2 separate regions of the Homo sapiens genome follow, and region 1 is linked to region 2. A link means that fine-mapping ties the variant in region 2 to the expression of a gene that starts in the linked region. Tissue or cell type: blood mononuclear cells. Region 2 holds a variant in brackets; the other region holds the start of a gene. All regions are shown on one strand. Distances are from middle to middle.

What was found. PIP is the estimated chance that this variant, and not a neighbour inherited with it, causes the effect.
Region 1: it holds the start of CYTIP, and the variant in region 2 is fine-mapped to the expression of CYTIP in blood mononuclear cells (TOPMed, PIP above 0.99).

Annotation. Positions count from the first base shown.
Region 1 is chr2:157,442,835-157,445,876 of GRCh38, reverse strand. CYTIP (cytohesin 1 interacting protein) reads left to right here and starts at 1,788. Exons shown (of 8, transcript NM_004288.5): 1 at 1,788-2,030. The coding sequence starts at 1,857. RefSeq lists enhancers at 1,938-1,987, 2,028-2,127.
Region 2 is chr2:157,412,932-157,415,431 of GRCh38, reverse strand. CYTIP (cytohesin 1 interacting protein) reads left to right here. Exons shown (of 8, transcript NM_004288.5): 8 at 1-813. Among named protein-coding and RNA genes, the nearest start is that of CYTIP, 30 kb to the left of the region's middle. RefSeq lists an enhancer at 1,681-1,730. The variant T/C (reference allele first, on the strand shown) is at 984.

The DNA.
Region 1 (3,042 bases), 30 kb before region 2:
AAAATTTTACTTAACACATTTCATGAGTTAAGTAATAAGTATTTTCCAGTTTCTTAATTGAATGATGATCTATGATTTACATCAGCTTAAGGTCAGTATTACAATGAATTGGTACAATTTTAGTAGTCATTTATAAAAATGGGTGAGTCAGTTGGCCTGAGTGGGTGGCCTTATATTAAGCAAATGTATAATTTCCATTTGGCATTTTAAAATATTAAGAATAAAAATTAAAAATATTTACCTAACTTTATCAGATTCCTAGGGTACAGTGGACTGCTGTCATCCATTAATAGTGATGATTTAATTTATGTGCCTCTTAGCCTGAAAATGTTTTTAAAATCAATCTCTCTCTCTGTCTTCCTAATACACACACACACACACACACACACACACACACACCCCACATATACCTGTATACATATCTGTACATATCTATAAATATAGATTTTACGTGAATATCTTTATAATTGATGTATTCTTTAGTTGCCAAGGTATTTACCACTCCCTTTTGCCTTACACATTTATGTTACTTACCTGGCTTCTGAAAACGTATGTGTTTTTAATTCCTGATTTAGACCGTTATATGTTTGTGGTGATATCACTTTGTCCATGTCAAAATTCAATTCCAGTATAATGAGTCATGCTGTGATAGAGTTTTTAAAATCTATAATTGGCTTCAACTTTTGAAGCACTATTAATTCAGATTTTACTATTTATATTTGGCAATTTCTACTTGAGTTGAATTCATCTTCACTTCCAGTACACACACATTTCATTTTAGTTCAAAGATTTGCTAACTCTTTCAAATGCTAGTATTGATCTTCAGAGATTTTAAAAAGCACATTTGACTTTTTGTGCCATATAAAACTTCTCTTTTTGACTTTTGTTTCGATTCTTCCTTTTACTTGCCTCCCCTACTCCTCCACTGAAACCAGTTCTCTCAAAACTACCTGCCCCCAACCTCAGCCAAAGGAAAAAAAAAAAAAGCATCTGTGATCTTGAGTACTTGGTGATGGTGCCCTTGACCCATATGCACATGCAGGGACCAACAGGCAATGTTCTTGGTGCCACCTTGGTTTGCCTGTTACCTTCCTGCCCACTCCTTTCCTCCCCTGGGACCACTTGCTGATGCTGCCGCAAAGTCTCGTCTAAGAAATGGCAACATTGTGCCCTAAATGTGCTGGCTTTCCCTTCCCATTGTACTTTGTAAAGATCATGGGTAATTTTTGTAAGGACAAAGTAGTAAAAGGACAACCAGAAGAATGCTGAATGGTTACAACCTCAGTGGCAGATATAATGTCTTTTTGATGAACATTAATGATCTAGGGTATACTTCAGGGAAAGTACAGTATTACAAGGACTTCGAGAGAGAACATTATGACCGGCACCTGTAATTCTTGCCCATATTCACAAGAACTGAATGTCCTCGTGTGCTGACTTCTGCATTGCATTGCTAATGTTAAGTAAGAGAATGGATGGGAAACAAATGGTAGCACTTGGGGACATTTTTCTTTCTTCTCTAAAGAAAAAAATGGCAAATGGTGGTGTGAATGCAACTTGCCACAGAACATAAAAGCGTAAGAATTCTGGCTGTTTGAGGTGAAAAAATAAGTTGATTTTTCTTTAAATTGTAAAAATTAGCTCCAGGTTCTCTCAGGAGCTTAAAGAAAAAAAGCTTTGAGAAATGGGAGTGAATAGCAAGATAGGGTTTGTGTAACAAGTTCCTCAAACCACAGAGGTCACATGGGCTCTTTCTGCTTTGCTACTTTTGATTACTTGTCACAGTTGTACTTTTAGCTTCCCCCATCCTGCAAGGCCACTCAACCATGTGCTAGCTGGAGTGATCTTTATTCACAATGTCTTTACAAAGGCTCCTGCAACACAGCAGCAATGGCAATTTGGCGGACTTCTGCGCTGGGCCAGCGTATAGCTCTTACTCCACACTCACCGGCAGCCTTACGATGGACGATAATAGAAGGATTCAAATGCTAGCAGACACGGTGGCTACTCTGCCTCGGGGACGAAAGCAGGTATGATTGCTATTTTGTACCCTTTAGAGTGTTCACATTCTCTTGAGGGCAGAGTGATATGTTTGTCTGACTTCATACTAATGGTGATATTTTAGAGGCTTTGGAATTACTGGCTGATTATTATGGGTGAAGGAGGTGAGATGCTCAGGGAGCTAGGTGAACCAGTCCAAAGATTTGAGACCACAATCAAACTTTTTTTTCAAGGCAAAAATTAAGATTGTTTTTCTTATTTGAAGAAGTGCTCAGGTAAAATAAACATCATTAAGCATAAAAAACTTGAAGATGGTTTATATAGATACAACCAGTATGAGAATTAATTCTCTTTTCCCCATTGTGTCTCCACTGATTCTTTCCCTTCCATCCTTACTTGCAGTCCTTGATGGTCATTTCAGTTCATAATCAAATAAGAAATACTTTTTCTGAGGACAAATTTTGTTGACTAATTATCTTCAGCTCTGGGTTGCTGGCACATACCTCAGGCTATTGGAAAGTAAGATTTTTTTTTTTTGGATAGATGAGTGCCAGATTGAATATCAGCTCACCACTTAGTGTCTGTGGGATCTTGAGCAAGCCACTTGCCTCTCTAAGCTTCAGTTTTGTTTTTTCTAAAATGGAGTTAATAATAGAACCACCCTTATTGGGTTCTTATGTTGGTTAAATAAGGAACTGTGCAGTGCCTAACACAGTGACTGGCATTCAGTGTGTGTTTATTAAATGCTAGATTATGCCATTTTAATATTTTTATTGCAAAGTTTGTCTCTAGGGATGAAAACTCATTTGGAAAAATCTATGTCTAACTGAATTTATTTTGATTTTTTCGTTCTTCAATTTCTAACATGTAAAAATTTTTTTTTAACCATAATACCTCTTCAGGATTTTTTTTAAACAACTTGCTCTAAATCCCCAGGTACATATTTGAATTTCGATGTAGCATTTCTACAGAAAATATTTAGAATTGCCCTAGAGCAAGAATTTTTGCGCTTAAGTCTTGCATGTACAATCATGTGCTTCT
Region 2 (2,500 bases):
GTTCCTGCTCATTCCAGTAATGTCTTTGAAAGCAAAACTAATATTTATTTTCTAGATTATCCCTGTGAATAATTGAGAACTTTTTGGAGTCAAGTATGAATAAAGGTGTGGCAGAATATAATAATCTGGACTATTTTCTATAGGATAATTGCTGGGTTATAAAATCTTAGGTTTGCTTATGCCCAGTAGCTCCTGCGGAGGCTTAATAATAGGCAATTTTGAATTTGTTCAAACCTGTAATGGCTTGTAAACAAAGATGACCATCAGCTGTTTCTCACATCTATAGTGACAATAAAGCGGGAAGTATAAGATTTAATAGGAGGGGTTAAGGTTCATGAGAACCATGGAAAGATGTGGTCTGAGATGGGTGCTGCAAAGATCATAATAAAGTCATTTTTATAGACAGTCTAAACAAAATGGGTGGGGATGTCGTGTTTTTTGCCCAATTCAGCTTTTGTTCTGCCTGAACATTAATGGCAAGTCTAGAACTCTCCGAATCCTACAGCTTTGTAATTTTTTTTCTACAAATGTCTAACATCCAAAACTGAGGGTTGGGAAAAGGACTTCCCTCCTGTAGTTTTTTTCATATTACTTCTCACTTTATATCTTATATTCTAAATAGCTATCACCTCAGCAGTCTTTTGCCTATTGGTTATGTTAGTATCACATTACTTCTAGCCTTTCAATTACTCCATGTTTTATTTAATATCCATTGAAGTCTATGAATTCTCTGTTCTGGTGGCACAGCTATTCATAACCTATATTCTAGAGTAGACAATCTGGACTATGTAATAAATAGTCTGCTGATTTTAAGTTCTCTCTCTCTCTCTCTCTCTCTCTCTCTCTCTCTGTGCGTGTGTGTGTGTGTTTGGGAGAAATAGAAACACTTCAATTTAAGTAGAGCTGCTAAATTTAATTAAACTTCTGCTTAAGAAATGAGTTATTTTGAGATAAAAGAGGGTAGGGTAAGGAAGCATCTAAGA[T/C]GAGAAAGAAATGATAAAGTATGAAAAGATTTCTAGTTGGGACTTGCCTTCTATTAACTCTTTGAACTGAGAAACATCCAGTGGCCTGTGCATGACAGTCACTCATATGAAAGGCAGGGTGTCACACCTTTCACAGAAATGATAGCAATACTGTCTACCATTTACTGAGTACCTAGTTGGCTAAAGACACTTTACGTATGATCCTCACAATTACTATATAGTAGGTGTTAGGCATACAGATAACAAGTCAGGAATTTGGAAATGTTCTCAGGGTCACAAGGCTAGTCAGTGGCAGGGCTAAAATTGGAAGCCAGTTCTTCCTTGCTCTAGTCTATTCCAGATATCTTTTACTCTTTTGGTTCTGTTTAGTGATCATCACAGTACTTTTTATTCCACCCAACAGGAATACTTAAAATGTACAATTATAGATGCTGCACAGATAAGAGCATTTCTTTGGGTAAATAGGAAAACAAACATTTCTCTGTTCCTCATATACAAGTTTCAGACATAGGTTCTTTAATAACTACATGATTAGCAGTGCATTTATTTTCAACAAGAGCTTGCAAACCAGTTATGATTCAACTGGTATTGCTTATTTCTCATCATAGTCTAGAATCATCCTGTTAAAGGTCTACTTATATGAATTCAGCATTTCTTGTTATCCTATTTCACAAAGTCCAGGGGAAGGAAACACCACATTTATTTGAGGAAAGATGACTTTGAAATCTTCTACAAGGTGAAAAAATGCTTTGAGAACTACACAGAATGACATAGGTCATACGGGAAAGCAGACCATAGATCATTTGCTTTTCTTGTGATTTTAATACAGAAGTGTAACACTGCTGTATGACAGTAGACCTCAAATGCAAAAAAGGGGCAGGGAAGGGACGGAGCAAGCATCACTTTAGTTTGCGGTAAGAATTAGAGTCGAGGTATGTTCTGAGAATAAAGAAAAAAGTACTGGTTAACCAAAGTACAGGAAGGAAGGGTATGTCATGTTCTATATTTCACAAGCTGTAAGAAAATTAGCTTTTGTTTAGTAGAAATGTGGGTAAATTTCTCACAGTATAACTTTCAGACTAATTTATGACTTCAGTCAGGCTTTAGAAGAAACTTCTGGTGCATAGTGATTCATTCTGATATAATTTACTAGGGAAAAAATTGAAAAGTGTTTTTTTAACTTGAAAGTTCTCAAATATGTATTACTGGTGAATTCCATTAATTGACAACCTGTTATGAAAATGCATTTTTCTAGAAGGGCATTTGATAAACCAAATTTGAATCAAGTAGATTGGGAATTACTTTATCATGTGGCTGAAGAACACAACCATGACAAACAGATTAGTAATATATTTTTGGAAGTGAACTTTTATTTATGACTTTCTACCTTGTAATAATTTTATATCTTAAGATACAGATAGCATTTAAAATCCCAGTTTGCGCTGAATAGATCAAACTTGGAAATAGTATGTGTGTCTTGATCACCAAAGTACAGACATTTTTGAATGTATACATAC